2 separate regions of the Homo sapiens genome follow, and region 1 is linked to region 2. The links come from fine-mapping of genetic effects on gene expression. A gene starts in region 2. The other region holds a variant in brackets. All regions are shown on one strand. Distances are from middle to middle. Region 1 overlaps OSBPL2 (oxysterol binding protein like 2). Region 2 holds the start of OSBPL2 (oxysterol binding protein like 2).

The links. PIP is the estimated chance that this variant, and not a neighbour inherited with it, causes the effect. A credible set is the group of variants that fine-mapping cannot tell apart.
Region 1: its variant is the best candidate, but not a certain one, in a credible set for the expression of OSBPL2 in monocytes (Fairfax 2014, PIP 0.83).

What each region holds. Positions count from the first base shown.
Region 1 is chr20:62,271,076-62,279,075 of GRCh38, forward strand. It overlaps OSBPL2 (oxysterol binding protein like 2), which reads left to right. Exons shown (of 14, transcript NM_144498.4): 5 at 1,050-1,184; 6 at 2,234-2,331. Among named protein-coding and RNA genes, the nearest start is that of ADRM1, 28 kb to the right of the region's middle. RefSeq lists an enhancer at 7,858-8,000. The variant A/AT (reference allele first, on the strand shown) is at 4,837.
Region 2 is chr20:62,232,662-62,243,102 of GRCh38, forward strand. OSBPL2 (oxysterol binding protein like 2) reads left to right here and starts at 5,860. Exons shown (of 14, transcript NM_144498.4): 1 at 5,860-5,936. LOC105369209 (a long non-coding RNA gene) reads left to right here. Exons shown (of 4, transcript NR_160555.1): 2 at 1-1,322; 3 at 2,345-2,702; 4 at 2,811-3,640. RefSeq lists a silencer at 5,588-5,987 and an enhancer at 6,685-7,609.

The DNA of each region.
Region 1 (8,000 bases), 37 kb after region 2:
CCTCTGCTTTGCCCACCCCAGACCCTGCTCCTTCCTGAAGAGCCTGCCCTGAGGTGACAGCTGTGTTTCCCTGGAATGCCTACTGCCCTTGGGATCCCTTTCCTGGAAGCCCGGTGGGAAGAGTGGCCCCTGTGGGCACTCGTCCCCTTGGCACCTTCCCAGCTTCCCCCACTAAGCCATGCGCCCTGCCGTCCAGGGCCTGGGAGCAGACACCTGAGACTCCTTTGCCAACTCGGAAGGCCTTAGGGGAAAGCCACATGGAGCCATGTTATGGGAGGCCTCATTTGCCAGGTTCAGGTGTGTCCGAGGCATCCTGGAGGGACGGGAAGCCAGGGACTATTTTTAACGGCGTGGGTGGCTCTGCCTGGGACCACTACTCTGTTTTTTTGTTTTTGAGACGGAGTCTGGCTCTGTCTCCCAGGCTGGAGGGCAATAGCATAATATCGGCTCACCGCAACCTTCACCTCCTGGGTTCAAGCGATTCTCCTGCCTCAGCCTCCCGAGTAGCTGGGATTACAGGTGTGCGCCACCATGCACAGCTAATTTTTGAATTTTTAGTATAGACAGGGTTTCGCTGTGTTGGCCAGACTGGTCTTGAACTCCTGACCTCAAGGGATCCACCCGCCTCGGCCTCCCAGGGTGCTTGGATTTTAGGTGTGAGCCACCGTGCCCAGCCTGGGACCACTACTCTGGAAGTGGGGTGGAGAAGATGTGGAGTAGGGGAGGGGGCGCAGGTGGGCCCAAGAGCCCTTGTGGCAGTCTCTGTGTCTGGAATGGGGCGGTGGGCTGGGGAGGCAGAGAGGATTCAGGGGTGTCATGCCAGAGACCTCTGCAGGCTCAGCACAGATTGTGTGTCAGGTCTGATGGCAGCTGAGGCTCACAGGGCAGGGCCGATGGGGCAGGGAGTGGCTCACCCATGGGGGGTTTGAAGATCCGGTTCAACCCCAGAGGCTGCGGCTCCATGAAGGGATGCTCAGAGCAGGGGCATCGGGCAGCCCAGCGGTGTCAGGAAGGCAGCAGTAACCAGCGAGTCTTCCCCATCTTTCCAGGAGCTGTCCAAGATCACGATGCCAATCGCCTTCAACGAGCCTCTGAGCTTCTTGCAGCGGATCACGGAGTACATGGAGCACGTGTACCTCATCCACAGGGCCTCCTGCCAGCCCCAGCCCCTGGAGAGGATGCAGGTGGGCCTTAGGGGTGCCAGGCAGGAGTTTGTCATGAAAGTGATGCCCCTTGCATGTCTGGCCACACAGTCTTGGGGCCCCAGGCATCTGTGAGGACTCGCACAGCTCCCCCCAGTGTTCAGTGCCATCCTGCCTGGCGGTCGTGGCATTTGTCCTGTCACCACAGGTGTGTGATGACAGAACTTGCCGGAAATGCCATTGAGCTCTCAGTGGCCCCAAGAGCTCCCTGCTGCCGCCTCCTGCCGGGAGACTCCGCCTCTTGGAGCTGAAGGTGGCGGTGGGCTCTGCCCTTGGGCTTCTCTTGGGTCCTGTTGCACCACCGCACCCCATGTGTGTGCATGTGTGTGACTGTGGGCTGGGCACGCACGGTGGCTCATGCCTGTAATCCCAACACTTCGGGAGGCTGAGGTGGATGAATTGCTCCTGGAGGTTGAGACCAGCTGAGGCAACACAGTGAGACCGCATCTCTACAAAAATTTTTTAAAACTTAGCCAGGTGCAGTGTTGCATGCCTGCAATGCCAGCTACTTGGGAGGCTGATGAGAGAGGATCGCTTGTGCCCAGGAGCTAGAGGCTACAGTGAGCCACGATTACGCCACTGCACTCCAGCCTGGGTGACAGAGTGAGACCCTGTGTCTAAAAAATAACAAAATACAAGTGTGTGACTGTGGGTGCACATAACGTGTGCACGTGTGTGCGCATGCCTCTGTGAATGAGTGCTTGGGGTGTGTGTGTTGAGTGTGTGGCCTTGTGTGTGCATATCAGACGGAGTGGCTGACATTGCTGCAGCATCTGCCAGAAGGGCCTGGCTCCGGGGGTGGAAGGCAGCACCCAGTTCCTTCTTTCTGTGCTGTCGGGGGAGTGGCGGGTGATGAAGGGCATTCCCTGGAAGTCCTATAATCTCAGACACACTGCTCGGGGAAAACTGAAAACGCACACGGAACAAATAGTGACAGAAACCAGGTGCCCACCGCCCTCCACAAGAGGCCATCTTCTCCAGCGCGTTTCCTAACTGAAGCTGTGCCTGTCCCCCCCGTGGATTATTTACAGTCTGTGGCTGCTTTTGCTGTTTCGGCTGTGGCTTCCCAGTGGGAGAGGACCGGCAAACCATTTAATCCACTCTTGGGAGAAACGTATGAATTAATCAGGTAAGGGGGGAAAGGCCCATCATAAATATCTTGTAAATGGAATTCCTTGGATGACAGATAAGTTTGATTCTTTCACTAGCATTGATTCCTCTGCTCTGAGAATAAACTGTTTGAATTAAGAGCTCACGAAAGCGTTTGGATGCTGTAGGCGAGATGTTTCACACACACGGGGTGTTGTGCTAGCGTGCCACGGCGTCTGAGTGAGTGTAAAGCGCTGGCAATGAGATATTTTAGTGTGTTCGACTCAAGCGTGGAGATAGCGCGCACTGTAGACGCTTCCGTGTGTGTGTGCGACGTCTGTGAAATGTGTAGGATTGTTGTGAGCTTCACCGAAAATGGAAATAGGTACTAATGAGCAAAACTAGGCTGTTTCACTAAAGCATTTAGTGAACGCTATTGAAAAAGCAGGTAAATCCAAACACAGGAATGATTGCAAAGAGGAGCTTCACTCCCAAGGCCACGTTTGCCACCACAGCCTCCCCAGAGTTTTAGGAAGGGTCAGACGGCTCTGGCCAAGGGAGAGTTAACCAGACCACGCCTCATCTCCAGACATCCCTGAAACTTCTTCCTATGGAACTTTCTTCTAGGCAGCGTTGCCATCCCTTCCTAGAGTCTCCCCAGCTTCCCTCCTGTCTCTGGTGGCCCTCACCTCACAGACGTGAGACTGACTCCAAGTCCTAGAACTCTGACCCCAGAGGTCCAGCCGGGCCCCAGATCCGTTGTTTGTGGCTGGGCCTCTGGAAGGACTGGTTGGGGTTCTCTTCACCCACCTGGTTGCCCTGGGGACTGCTGTGGTTATTCACAGAATCATCCTGGGATTCTGCCCAGGTGACAGTGCCCACCCACACCAACAAATGAAGTCAAAAGCAGGCCAGACCATGGCATGTATGTGGCAGTGTGGTAATTCCTCAGCCATTGAGCAGCCTGGCTGGGGCTCCGGGGAGCTGTGGATGAGAGGGATGTGGGTGGCTTCCTTCAGGGCCGTTTGGTGATGTCTAAAATGATTTTTATTCCACTGCCCGTGGACCCCGTCATTCTCTTGTAGATGCATGCAGGTGCCCATGGGCAGATGTGTAGGGAGAGTCAGCAGAGCACAGTTCAGCTGCTGTCTCTGTGACAGGGCTAAGCTGTGGTTCTGAAGGAGGGAGGGGCAGGGCACTCTCGCTGCACCCTTCAGTCTTCCGACTGTCGAGGTAGCCCAGCACACAGAGCTCACTCTGGGAAGAAGGAGCTTGCTGGTGGGACACCCTTCACTCTTCTGACTGTCAGTGGAGCCCAGCACACAGAGCTCGCTCCGCCTGCCTGGGGAGAAGGAGCTGGAGGGGCGTGGGTGGTTATCTAGACAAGTCTGCTGTGCAGAATGCAAGCTGTTTGCCACAGGCTGCTGGGCTGCACGCCTCCCTGCCCAGGAACAGAGTGCAGACGGGAGGGAAGGCGGGCTCCTTTATCATCTTGTTTTATTATTTTTCTGTGAAAAAGGGAGTTGAGCCAAAACAATTAGCCTCTTATTTGGATTCTGGGTTAGTTGAGATTCTGTTGGGTTATTTTATTATGAAGTCTGTTTGTTTTTTTAATTACGAGAGAGTGCTCTTTATAGAAAATGTGTAACATTGAGAAAGGTAGAAAAGATGAATCAGGCATAATCCCATACAAGACAATAGCTGGCTGGGCTCACGCCTGGAATACCTGCAACTCAGGAGGCGAGGCAGGAGCATCACTTGAGCCCAGGAGTTCAGTTACAGTGACCGTGCCACTGAACTCTAACCTGGACTACAGAGCCAGACCGTGTCTCTTTAAAAAAAATGAGAGGAACTGTCAGCATTTTGTTAGACTTTCTTTTGTGTGTGTTTCAAAATATGATAATTTAATTTGTATCCCTTTTTAACATGTCATAATTTTCCTGTGACATTAAAAACTTTTTCTAAATTAGAGTGTTTCATCGATTCTAAGACGCCTTGTTCACGTGGCAGCACTTCTACATGTCAGTTTCTTGTTCCTTTTTTTTTTTTTGAGACGAGGTCTCACTCTGTCGCCCAGGCTGAAGTTCAGTGACATGATCACGGCTCACTGTAGCCTCGACCTCCTGCCTTAACCTCCTGGATATGATCACAGCTCACTGTAGCCTCGACCTCCTGGGCTCAAGTTATCTTCCCACCTCAGCCTCCCAAGTAGCTGGAACTACAGGCGTGCGCCACCATGCCCAGCTAATTTTTGTATTTTCAGTAGAGACAGGGTTTTGCTGTGTTGCCCAGGCTGCTCTTGAACTCCTGAGCTCAAGTGATCTGCCTCCCTCAGCCTCCCAAAGTGCTAGGATTACAGGTGTGAGCCTCTGTGCCCAGTCCAAGTCATAGTTTCATTTGCAGCATTTTTTTCTTTCTTTCATAAAATAATGGTGTGCAGTGCAATGAATGGCATCTTGGGTTCCAAGAAGTGCAGTTCCTTTGAAACTTAAGGCCGCTGTTTTGGGGCCCTTTATTGTATTTTATGTGTTATTAATGATTGAGA[A/AT]TTTTTTTTTTTTTTTGAGACGGAATCTCCATTGGTTGCCCAGGCTGGAGGGCAGTGGCATGATCTCCACTCGCTGCAACCTCCGCCTGCTGGTTCAAGCAATTCTCCTGATTCTCCGCCTCAGCTTCCTGAGTAGTTGGGATTACAGGTGCACGCCACCAGGCCCGGCTAATTTTCGTGTTTTCAGTAGAGACAGGGTTTCACCTTGTTGGCCAGGCTGGTGTCGAACTCCCAACCTCAGGTGATCTGCCCACCTTGGCCTCCCAAAGTGCTGGGATTACAGGCGTGAGCCACCACGCCTGGCCATGATTGAGATTTTTATCAATAGTGAGCAAATGGTTGTGGGATTTGGTTTGCTTCAGATGGACTCTTTTCCAGTGTGTAAAGAGTTTAAAAGTGCGTGCCCATGTTTGTCCTAGAAGGTGTGTCAGCACTGCCTGTCAGACCATTTTGGGAGGATGCGTTGTTAGTAGTACAAGCTTTCCTGCACTTCTGTATATAAATCACTATGCAGTTTGGAGAAGCAACATAAATGTCACAGCTTCAAATTCTAATCTGTTCCTGGCTCATCCTGGCTGGGTCAGCTGCTGGTCCTTACCCACATGCTGCCCGTGCGTGAATGCCAACTTTGTGTTTTTTGTCTGATTTAGAAGTTGGCTGGCACTGGGCAGCCGAGCACCTGTTCTCAAGATGTCATTGCCTTTGAGCAAGTAGGACTAGTTTGGACAGAGTGTGGCGTGGTGACAGCAGGGTCCAGCAGGCAACTGTCGGTCTTGGCACAAGCTGCAGGGAGCAGCCCTGCTTCTGCTTCTGGGAAAGGGGAGGCTGAGGCCTGGACAAGGGAAAGACTGGCCACGAGAACCACTTGTGAGGGAGTCTTCTGTTCTGAATTCATGTAGAGTGTGCTTCCTTTTCTAGATATTTCTCTTGAGCAGTATTCCTGTTGCTGCCTGCCAGCCTTCTCGTCCTCTGGTCAGCGTGCTGTGCCACTGTCAGAGGCATTGACGGGATTGGCTCTTAAAAAATTATTAAAATGTCTTGAAAAAGATAAATCAGGCCGGGCGTGGTGGCTCACGCCTGTAATCCCAGCACTTTGAGAGGTTGAGGTAGGCAGATTGCCTGAGGTCAGGAGTTCGAGACTAGCCTGGCCGACATGGTGAAACCTCGTTTCTGCTAAAAAATACAAAAAATTAGCCGGGCGTGGTGGCGGGTGCCTGTAATCCCAGCTACTCGGGAGGCTGAGGCTGGAGAATCACTTGAACCTGGAGGCGGAGGTTGCAGTGAGCCGAGATCACGCCACTGCACTCCAGCCTGGGCGACAGAGATTTTGAGATTCCATCTCAAAAAAAGAAAAAGAAAAAGATAAATCAGAAGAGGAAAGAAGTTCTAGATGATAGAGAAGAAGCCTTGTGGGTGAAAGGAATGCAAGCCGCCTGGGCTGGGTAGAGCGGGGCGTGCCGCCAGCACCCTTCCCCAGGGGCTGCACCCGGGGCCGGAGCTCCTGCTGCACAGCCAGAAGCAAGCTATGCACCTTCGCAACGCCGAGACACGTCGTCTGTCATGAGTTCACTTCCAGATCGTCCTTGCCAGTGTCTGCCATGTGCTGTGTGTCTGTGAGACCCTGGCAGTCTGTCAGGTTAGGGGCCATGGACGTGGACCAAGTCCTTTCCTGATACCCTGGATCCCTACAGATCCCTTGTTATAGCTAAAAATACACATTCTTTTCTCAGACAAGTATTCATTTTGTAAATTACATACCTTGGTAGTCAACCTTTTAAAATCTAATTTTTCAACTTTCTTTCTTCTGTAATGATTGGAAATTCTGATTCCAGTTAAGTTGGTAATTATGTGGTTTAGCTTTTCTAATTTTTAATGACTACAACTGTAGGTGTATTCACAGTTCCGGAACAATTAAAAGCTGACATTTTGATTGAAAAAGAGAGTACACTAAAAATCCTGTTCCTGGACAGGAGTATTTTGGGGTATAAGCCATTCCATCTCGGAAATTTCAGGGGCCTTGTAGAAAGACAAGGAAGGGGCACCCCCTTCAGAAAGGGTTTAGGGTCCTGAGTTCCTGGGCAATGGGAGTCCCTCGGGGTTGAGGGTTTGGAGTCAGAGGTGTGTAAGGATTGCTTCTCCACCTGCGTCTCTGGGTACCTCTAGCCAGACACTGCTGTGGCTCAGGTGGAGAGCAAGCGGGGCATCAGGGTGGAGGCCTCTCCTGCACCATTGCGCTCTCTGGGTGGGTCAGATGTGCTCTGGAAGCCATGTGTGTGTGTGTCTGTTGCCAGCGTTAGGCCAAGTGCGATGTCATGTTTGTGTGTGTGTCTGTTGCCAACGTTAGGCCGAGTGCGATGTCATGTTTGTGTGTGTGTCTGTTGCCAGCGTTAGGCCAAGTGCGATGTCGTGTTTGTGTGTGTGTCTGTTGCCAACATTAGGCCAAGTGCGATGTCGTGTTTGTGTGTATGTCTGTTGCCAACATTAGGCCAAGTGCGATGTCATGTTTGTGTGTGTGTTGCCAACGTTAGGCCAAGTGTGATGTCATGTTTGTGTGTGTGTCTGTTGCCAACATTAGGCCAAGTGCGATGTCATGTTTATGTGTGTGTTGCCAACGTTAGGCCGAGTGCGATGTCATGTTTGTGTGTGTGTCTGTTGCCAACGTTAGGCCGAGTGCGATGTCATGTTTGTGTGTGTGTCTGTTGCCAATGTTAGGCCAAGTGCGATGTCATGTTTGTGTGTGTGTTGCCAACGTTAGGCCAAGTGCAATGTCATGTTTGTGTGTGTGTGTCTGTTGCCAACATTAGGCCAAGTGCGATGTCATGTTTGTGTGTGTGTTGCCAACGTTAGGCCGAGTGCGATGTCATGTTTGTGTGTGTGTTGCCAACGTTAGGCCGAGTGCGATATCGTGTTTGTGTGTGTGTCTGTTGCCGTTAGGCCGAGTGCGATGTCATGTTTGTGTGTGTGTTTGTTGCCAACGTTAGGCCAAGTGCAATGTCATGTTTGTGTGTGTGTGTCTGTTGCCAACGTTAGGCCAAGTGCGATGTCATGTTTGTGTGTGTGTCTGTTGCCAACGTTAGGCCAAGTGCAATGTCGGAGAGGTGGTGTTGGGTGTTTCCGCCACATGTTGTGGCATGGAGGGCCCCTGCTTCCCAGCGTCCTGTGAG
Region 2 (10,441 bases):
GGGTGCTGTGAGCCATGCATGAAGCTCCTGGTGGGTACAGCTCTGCCTCATGGGTCACCCCTCTCTACCGTGACCACGAGGACTGGGCTGGGTATGCAGTGCCCTGCTGTGACCCCTGACACACAGACCCCTAGCCATCCCCTCCACCCCCTCCCTGACCTCCTCTCCCAGGGATGCAACTGGGGGAGCACACCCATCCCCAGAAGAACCCCAAATCTCTGGCTGGCTGTCTCTTACCCAACCCCCATCCCCAGCTCCAGCTGAGGGGCAAGCGTGCTGCTGGGCTGCTCCTGAGGAGAAACCCATGGCGCCACCCTCAGGCCCCCGGTGGCTCCTCAACCTGGGCCCCATCTCTGCCCCCCATCTTGGCTCCTCAGGCATATTTAAACTTTGCCCCTCCCACCCCCGTGCCTGGCGGATCCCCTGGCACTGAGGCCCAGCCAGTGGCTCCAGCCAACGCACTTGGCTCCCGCAGCAAGTTAAATCTAACCCAGCCCAGCTGTCTCTCCTCCGGCTCCCACCTGCCCCTCCCGTTCCCTGCAGGGATGTGCCCACACCCTGCCAACCCTACATGGGCCCTCAGGAAGGGTGCAGAGGTCCCCCAGGGTCCCCCACTTTCCCACACTAGGAAAGCCCTTTGCCTAGCAGCCTCTGGGGTGGGTGCCCTGCTTCTGGAGGTACCCCGGCACCCAGGGTGGGGCCAGCAGAGTGCAGCAGGTTTTCAACAGGTATTTCAAGAAGGAGCAGGAACCCACTTCCCATCAGTCAGGGTGCAGCCAGGAAGAGGGAAACTCCAGGGCCAACGCTGAAGTGGCCGCTGCAGCACCACGCTGGGGCACGGAGTTGGAGTACAGCCCTTGTGCCACAGGCGTGCCAGGGAATGTGTGCCAGGCGCTCTGTCTTGCATCTGGGGCTGTCGGTTCTTCTGAGGCAGGGCACTCATGGGTCGCTTCTGGAGATGTCCACATTTCTGGGTCTGGGACTGTCTAGGCCTGGCTTTGGGGCCATCTGTAATCTGCTCCCCGTAGCCCCATGTTTTGTTTAGGCTGGAAGTGCACTCAGCTAAAATGCCGTTATCCTACCAAAAGTGGCATAGGATGGAGTTCTGGCCAGTGAGATGTGAGCAGAAGTGCTGGGTGTGTCTTCAGGGACAGATCCTCAAAGGGAGCTGACTCATCTAGGGGGCAGCACTTTTGCTCTTCCTCTTTTCCTTCCTCCTTTCTGGTCAGGTATGCTTGTGATGGCTGGAGCATCAGCAGCTGTTTTGGGCCATGAGGTGACACTGAGGCTGGAAGCCAGCACTAGGAGAGTGATACAGTAAGGTAGGAGCTGCGTCCCTGAGGATGCCACTAGGAGAGGATAGTGTAAGATAGGAGCTGTGTCCCTGAGGATGCATGGTACCCTGCCAGCTGGACAGCGCAGGCTTGTGTCACCGAGAGAAAAGTACGTTTCTACTCTGTCGAAGCCTCTGTTACTCTGAGCTTTCTCAGGAACGCAGCTCTAACCAGTTCTAAAGGGCAGGCAGCCATGTTGGCTCAAATGCTTCCCCCAGCAAGGCAGGAAGCCACTCCAGTGTCCTGCAAGAAACTTCATAGAAAAAAGGCTTCCATCCCCATATGTTGGGGGTCTGCATCAGGCCCTTCCTGGGCCCTGGAGCCTCCATGTGCACCTGAGTGGGAAGGGCTCTGGGAAGCCTAAGGCTGGGGAGGGCACCTGTTGACTTTGTTTAAATAGTGTTCTCAAGCCTACTTGACTGAGGAACCCCTTCCTCCAGAAACAAGGAATTACAGCCGGAAAGGCCTCTGGGAAGGCCACCTTCTCTGCCCTTCACTGCGGGGTGGGGCGTGTCCCTGAGCTACTGCACTCAGAGGAGCTGGGCCTGGCCCCGGGCAGGCAGCAAGCACTCCAGGAGAGGCTGTGGCTGCTGCCAGCTCTGTGAGCGGGAAACTGGGGGGCCTTTCTCCCCTCTCCCCAGCCCCTCATTCCAACTGCTCTGGAGCTGTGGCCTGAGCCCCACCCTGGCCCTCTGCTCAGAAGGGCCTGTTCCCAGGCAGGTCTCAGTGCCCAGGAGTGGAGAGGGGGGCTGTGGAGACCAGGGGGATCATCCCAGGAAGAGTGGGTTTGCAAAGCTGCAGCAGCAAGGAAGCTGTGGGGTAAAAAGTTTATAAGAGGAACACTATTTTTTCTTTTGGCAGAATTTAATGGGTGCAGATTGTTCAGGTCCCAAAGACATGGGAAAAAAAAAAAAGAGAGAGAGAAAGAAAAAGCCCTTTGCTGCTGCTATTGATAACTTGTCTCGCTTCACGTGGTGGGTTCAAAACTAAAAATACTCTCCTCCCCACAGCAGAGAAGCCAGGGCTGTCACGTCGCAGAGGAGACTGGAGAGCTGCGGCGGGGAGGGGTCAGCTGCGGCCACGTGAGGGCCAGGCCCCTCTCTGACTGCCCAGGCTGCATCCACACAGAAGATTCCATGGCTTTCCATAAAAGAGAGTGGGAGAATGTCCTCTCTAAAGGCCTGGGGAGTGCCTGGGGAGAGGAGACAGCCTCAGCTGGGGCTCACCAGCCAGCAGCTGCCAGCCAGGCCAGCAATGCCAAGGCACCCGGCGTTCCTGGAAGCCAAGCCCTGTTTGATCTAATGGGGCAGCTGTGGGTGCAGACCCAGATAAAGAGATAAACCCAGACCCAGAAACCTGGGGGAGGAGGTAAGAGTGGAGCGGGGGAAAGGGCGGTGGGTCGTAGGCGGGACTGGTGCTGCCAGGCCCTGGGCAAGCTGCTTCTGCTCTCTAAGCCTCAGTTTCCCCATCCAAAAGGTGGGAGCAACAACCTCTCTTCCGCCTCCTTCACCGTGAGAGGAAAGGAAGCGGGATGACATAGTTGTGGCTGGGACTGCTGGACCCCGCATGCCAGCCCTGGGAGGTATGTGGGTCATGAAATCCACCCACTGGTGACCTCCCCCATGGTGAGGGAGGGAGAGAGCTTCTCCCCTCCTTGGCTAAGAGGACAGAGGGAGGATCCTACAAATTCTGTCAGGAAGCAGAAATTTGGTCTGAGAGCAGTGAAGGTGGGAGCAGACACCCCCCAAATCACCTGCAGGATGAGCATTTCTCAGGCTCTAGAGAGCATGTGTGGGACACAGCCGCCAGCCCACCTGGTGCGGGGGTCCAGCAGCCACAGCCATGGGAACTCCTGGGCCTGTTGTTCGTGTGCGGATCCTGGTCCGGGAGCCTGGATGCGGCTCTGCCTTGCCGACAAGCTCCTGGGCCAGGCCTGGTCCACCAGACCTCCCTATGCTTGGAGTGCCTGCTTGTTGTGCCTGGAGCTGTGCTGGGCCCTTCCTCATTGCAGGGCTGGGGGAGTCACTTAACCTGTCTGGGGCTCAGTCTTCTCATCTGTAAAGTGGGAATGATGGCACCTGGTACCCACTTGATTGGCTGTTGCAAACATGAAACCAGATGGGCCTGTAAATCACAGGGCACTCGGCCGCCATCACCATCATCATCATCAACATCATCATCCTCATCATCATGGCCCCAGCTCATCCATCTTTGTTGCCTTCTCCACCCCCATCTTCCATCCTTGGAGAACTGTGCCTCTTGAATTGGCCTCGTGACCTAGTAAAGATCATAACAAAGACGCCTAAGTTGGTCTCAAGGCACCCTCCTTACTACCCACCAACTGAGGGAGGATTCTCGCCTAGTCCCAGCAACTGGCCCCGGGGAGGAAGTACCCTTCCCAGTCCTGGCACGTCTCCAGCAGTGCTGGCTGACGGCAGACTACCCTTGAAGCTCAGTTACTGCATTTGTGGAGAGGGGTGAAACCCCTGCTCCAGCCCAGGGGCCATCTGAGATCACACCCCCAACCCCAAGGCCAGGGTGGATCTCCCTGCTTGGCCCTGGGGTGGTCCCTGGGCAGATGAGAGGGTCCTTCTGCCTGAGCCTCTGAGGCTGCCCTCACTGCAGAGCTCGTGGTCAAGGGGTGGGTGGGCAGGTTGGATCCCCTCAAGGGCACAGGGGTTAGAGTCTTAGAGACTTAGGGTGAGGGACATGGAGAGTGATGGGTTTCTGGGACCCTGAGCTGGCCCTGGCAAGGCCCACAGGGAAAGCTGTGGAGCGCAGTCATCTCCGTGGCAACTGGCCTCATCGTCCTTGTCCTGGCTTGGGGGCCGCACGCCTTCCCTTCCCTTTCACCGGCTGGAGTCGCTTTCTTCAGAGGTAACCATGGCAACCCCTTTGTTTCTGAGGCCTGCCCGCCCTCCTCCCCGTTCTCTCTTCAGGAGAGGCTCAGCCAGCTCCTTCCTGGTCCCGGCACGTCTCTAGTGGCGCCGACTGACAGTGGCCCACCAGTGAGTGGGGCCAGCCCCTGGGGTGGGGGAGAACGGCCCTGCTGGGCCCAGAGATGTGGCCTGGGCCCCACCCCTGCCACAGAGGCCACGTTCATTGGCTCACTCATGCCCTGAAATTTATAGAGAGTACCCACGTCTGCCACGGGGCCACAGATGGGGCAAAGGCCTGTCCCTGCCTCCATGGCCCTGCTAGGGGCAGCCTGGAAGTGGGGAGACAAGGCCTGAGGAGGGGGTGCAGAGGCCCAACGGGGGCTGGCTTTGCTGCAGGACGCACTGCGGGGTCACGGGTCATCTGCCAGAGCTCTCAAGGCCACAGGAAGCCCAGGACTCTTGGCTTTACCTCAAATGGGCTGAAGCAGAAACAAGCATGTGGTTCACGTAACTGAAAAGTCAAGGAAAGGACCTGCTGAGGTGCAGCAGGGTCCACGTGACCCGGCCGTGGTTGCTCCGGCTTTCCTCTGGGCTGGCTTCATTCTCGTGCAGCCCTGTTCTCGGGTAGTGAGATGTGGAAGACTGGCCCCTTCCCTCTCTCACCTAACCCAGCTCTGGAGAGGTCTGTGGGCAGATGGGAGAGTCATTTGACTTCAGCCTCCCCTCCGGTCTGAACTCTGACCCTACAGCAAAAGTCCCAGGACTGAGCCTCTTTGGCTAGAACTGGGTCACAGGCTGACCCCTAAACCAACTGCTGTGACTATGTAGCCAGCCTGGTTTATGCCACTCCACTCACCTCAAACCAGACCCATGACTTCAATGAGATGTTGACAGGGGAACCCTGGTTTGCAGATGAAACTGAGTGATCACAGACTCAGAGAGGTTAATTAATTTGTCCAAATCCACACAGCTGGTAAAGAATGCAAGCTCCAGGTCTGATTCCAGAACTTCTGGGCTTAACCCTGGAGCCACTGTAGGTCAGTGGGAGTCCAAAGGGTTTTAAGTATGGTGGTGAAACGGTCGGGGATGCAGCTGGAGGGGTAAATTGGCGCTGGATTTTGGTTGGCGGTGAATGGCATGCAAAGGAGGTGGACGATATTCAGGATTTGGTAGGACAGTGGAAGCAGCTACGCCCCAGCTATCGCACGGTCCCCAGCATTTGTAGGAAAAAGCCCCCAGGGCTTTGGGTAGCCTCGCAGGCCCGCACTGCCGCCAGGACGCAGTGCACCTGAGGGCGGAGCACCCACGCCCCGGGCCACCTGACTCACTGTTTGTCAACTCTGCTCTCTGCAGCCACGCCCTTTCCTCCTTGCCTCCCTCCCCTTTTGGCTCAGGGGCGGCATAACCCCGCCTCTCTCCTGCTGTGACTGGCTGTCCTTGCCGTCACTCCGCTGCGTGGGCGGGGCTCTGAGGGGGCACAGGTAGAGGCCCTTCGCGAAGGGATTAGCATAGTCCCACCCCCCGGCGCGAGCCTCGGGCCGGGCGCTGATTGGGCAGGCAGCGGCCGACGCGGCGGCGCCGGGCGCAGCGAGTGGCGGGCGCGGGCTGTCAGTCGGCGAGGCGGCGGGCCGCACTTCCGCCTCGGTGTCAGTGGGTCGCGGGCCTACGGGGCGGGGGCGGGGCGGCAGTGAGCTCGGCCGGCAACCGAGGGACCCGCGTCCAGGTGAGTGGCCCCCGCCGCCGCCACGCGAAGGCCCGGGACCCCGGCGAGCTGCGGGGCCTGGGCCGCGGGCTGGGGCTGGAGCCGGGGCGGGGAGGGGAGGGCGGGCCGGGCAGGACCCGGGTCCGCAGGCCGCCTCCAGCCCCGGCCCCGGCCCCGGCCTCGACCCCCACTGGGAGGCGCGCCCGGCCTAGGCCGCAGCCTGGCGCCCCGGGGAAACTTTGGGAGGAAAGTTCCGGCCGGGCGTGGGGCCTGGGCCTGGGTCCCGCGGCCCCCGCACCCTTCCCCCTGCGGTCGCCCGGCAACTGCGATCCCGGGACCCCCGGCCCGGCCCCCCCGAGATCCCCAGCCCCCCTGCTGCCCCGCTGAGCAGGAAGTGGGGACGGGCGCACCTGCTCGCGGCCTCGCCCTCTCTCACCACCTCACCGGGAACAGGGAAGGATTTCGTGCGCATTTAGGGCGATCCTGTAGGTGAGGAGGGCGAGTTCCGCCGGGAAGAAGGGCAGGGAGACGCAGTCCCACTCCGACCCTGGCCTTCTTGTCCCGCAGGCCTGTGTGCACGTCGTCCCGGGGAGGGTGCCCGCGAGCCCTTGTCCGTTCCCCTGGGCTCTGTTTTTGTTTTTAATTTATAAATCTTAGCAGACTACACACGGTTGAGAACTTGCTACCTAAAACCTATCTTTGGTAATGTAATTTTAAGAGGTTCCTTCTTTCGCCAGTTATATTTTGGTACTCAGAAGAATACGTCTTTAGACTTTCCAAGTTTATAAGCCCAGACCAAGACTGTTAGGTCGTCACAGCACCTCAGCCTCCCCGCTTCATGGGAGGACCGGCGACGAGGCAGTGGGTGTCGGGGTGTTGCAGGCTCTCCTGGGGTGAGGGTCACCTCCCAGGGGCGTTTCTATCTGAACCGTCCTCTAGGACAGGCCCTGGCCTAGCCTGGCTCCGGCAGCTTTGGGATGACTGCCCGGAACACCTGGAGAAGGGGTCCCATTCGGTTTGGTTGGATAGACGTTTCTCGAATGCCTGCTGTGGGCCTGGCTGGGTGCTGTGCGGCCTTCCCACCAGCTGGATGTGTGGTGAGGACAGCGGAGAGTTGAGGAGCCCGGAACTGGTGCAGGGGCCACATGCTGGGAAGCCACGGCCGTCCCTGCTGCCCTTCCTAACTCGTGCCCATGGCCTCTTTTCTGGCTGTCAGCCTCAACTCCTTCATCCGGACATGTAGCACTTTGCTGATAAGAGAAGCAAACGAGATCATTTTCTTGTTTTATGTTTTGAGATGGAGTCTCGCTTTGTTGCCCAGGCTGGAGTGCAGTGGTGCGATCTTGACTCACTGCCACCTCCGTCTCCCGGCTTCAAGCCATTCTCCTGCCTTAGCCTCCCATCTAGCTGGGACCACAGGCGCCGGCCACCACGCCCGCCTAATTTTTTTATTTTTAGTAGAGATGGGGTTTTACCATGTTGGCCAGGCTGGTCTCGAACTCCTAACCTCAAGGGATCCGCCTGCCTCAGCCTCCCAAAGTGCTAGGATTCCAGGTGCGAGCCACCGCGCCCTGCCATGAAATCATTTTCTACCACAGTCTCTGACACCTAGTGCGCACCCCGGAATGCCAGTTACCTTCCCCTTGTTGAGGACAGGAACTTTGTCGGTGGCACTTCCTCCCTGCCCAGCCCAGTGCCTGCCACAGTGTCGTCTTTTAGAATGTGGCAATGAGTGAGTGAGTGACTGAGTCTCCCTCATAGAATTTACCCTGTTTTCTTCATGTGTCCATCTATTAATGACAGCTCTTACCCCAGCAGACGATAATATTTAATAATGATTGTTCCAGGACTGTTACGAGCATGTCGTATTCACTTTCTTTGTGTGATCTTCACAACAGTCCACTGGGCAGGTACTGACATTATCCTTAGTTCATTCATGAGGAAGCTAAGGAACAGAGAGGTTAAGTAACTTACCTAAACCACACAGCAGTAAATTATGAAATATGGATTTGAACCCAGGCTCCAGGGTTCACACTCTTAAACACTACCCTGTACTGCCTTTTAATATCAAGATTTTCATTTAACATTTTCGTTTAGAATATTCTAATCATGCTGCATTACTCTGTGTCAGAATTTCGGGATTTTGCTACATATAGAACTAATAGACTTTCTTTTTTGTGAGCCTGAGTGTTTACAAAGCCATTTCATTTTTTCTGAAATAAAGTAATTTACCGTTTGACCATTCAGGATTTTGCCAGAATACCTTCCCTGCCACCCAGCTCCTTTGTTACTGGCAGATTCAGTGGTGGTCTCTGTGTGAAGAGGGAGGACTGAGGGGCATGGGTGCTGACAGGCGTACAGTCCAGACTCTGAGGTCTCCGTTCTGAGTTCAGTTCCAGGGGACTTCACACACTGCCTTAGAGTACACACGTAGGACATTTTTCTTCCACGCCTCGAGTGCGTTGAGAGGGTCAGACTCTGCTGTGTTCCACATGTTAATGAGAGGTGCTGTTTGAATGTGAAAAAAATGCCACTTGACTTTCATCCCAGTGTCTCTCCTCTGTGCCGTCCAGGAGATGCCAGCAGATGGGTCTTGGAATTTTTTTTTTTTTGAGATGGAGTCTCGCTCTGTCGCCCAGGCTGGAGTGCAGTGGCGCGAACTCGGCTCACTGCAAACGCGAACTCAGCTCACTGCAAGCTCTGCCTCCCGGGTTCACACCATTCTCCTGCCTCAGCCTCCCAAGTAGCTGGGACTACAGGCGCCCGCCACCACACCTGGCTAATTTTGGGTCTTGGATTTGTCATTAAAGCTTGCTCGACTTTTAAAGTTTTAGTACATTCAGCCAATTACAAAAGTGACATTTTGTATAAGGGAATTGTTGACACATTTTAGGTTCTTATGCTGTCTTCAAGCAGGGAAGCTGCCATCTCCTCAAGGTGATTTCTTTAATGTCCCCATGCAAGCCATGTCTTGTCTGGCCGTGCAGGCACAGCTGGCGCCGTGCCTTCCTGAGTCACAGCATCTTTGCGAAGGTGGTGCGCCAGACCAGGGCTCTTGGGTCCTGGGTGGGTTCCCACTGGCTCCTGCCTTCAGTGTCTTTGCCTGTAAGACGGATTACTATGTGGAATCTGTGAAAATATAACATCAAGTGTCTGATACGTTGTGGGTGCCTGGGCCGCCCTTGGCTCCAACACCTGCTGAAGCTGGAGCCTCTCAGCAGTGCAGCAGTCACACCCTCAGGTGTCCCGGGATCTTTGGGTGTGGGCTGATTTTCTCCTAGTCATTGTCATACTTCCTGTTTGGGTGTTGACATTTCGTTTAGTGTTTAGCACAGATTGTCAGGTACGAGGTTTAATTCCAATATGTAGTACATTTTCAGGTTGATTTATAACCTTATCTACACTGAAAGGAAGTCAGTATTTGAACATGACTGATTATTAAAAAGGACCGAAGTCCTGAGTTAATATGGTGGGTTCTGGTTTGATAGTTTAAATGCACTTTCCACATATGCTAGTTGATTTGTAAATCTGCTGTCATTTTTGCTTTTTCAGAGTGTTCTTGCTAGTGAGTTTCAGGCATGGTGTCCCGGCCTCTCAGGCTGCTGGTTTGGGCTAGGGTCCCACTGTGGAAGCGTGGTGGTGTCCCGGCCCACCTCTGCAGCTCTTGATAATAAAAGCATCTGTTAAATAGCTCACAGCACTGTTTGCGTGAACTTTTTGGCACTTCTTTCCTTTTCCTTCCAGATTCAGAAAAGAACTTGGGATCATTCAGCAGAATGTCACAGCATCCACATTCTTTCCGCTGGAGCTTCTGCTGATGCAAATCCTGTGACCTCTGAGTTGAGCTGAGTGGTGGAAGTGAGCTTTTATAAGGGACTGGATCTGAGACTCGTGCCTGATGTTTGTGGCTGTTTCTCTTTGCTTGCCTTCTGTTTTCAGTGGAACACTCGCTTGATGTATTTTGAGAAACAAACTCTGGGATCAGTCCTGTTGAGCTAGTGGCTGGCTCCATAGTTTGGGGCCTGAAGAGGTTCCCGCACCCTCAGGGCTTGTGGCGGTCATCAGGCCTCTCTCCTGGGTGTAAGGTGTGTACTTCTCACCTGCGCACTGAGGGCCTGGGGGCTGTGGCCCCGACGCTGAGGCAAGTCAGGGGTGGGAAGGGTCTGAGGGGCTCTTGGCTGAGCAGACACTGAGCACATTTCTTTATCAAAGGCGCTGGGACTGCAACCTTCAGGGGTGCCCAGAGAGCGCCTGTTGTGGGCTCATACGGGGAGTTCTTGGAGGAGCACCAGGCAGGGAGGACTGTAGTGTGTAGGGAGTTGTGTGGAGTTTTGGTTCCAGAAAAGACGGAGGCAGCTGTAGAGGAAGGAGGACTATGGTGTGGAAGTGAGTGCCTGTGCTTTGTACTGAATAAACCTAAGGCTGATCCAAGGCTGATCGTGAGAAAGAGCCCCCTGTAACCTGGGACCTTGTGCCACTGTGCTCGGCCAGAGAGCAACTTCCATTATTGCCTTAAAACTAGGGGG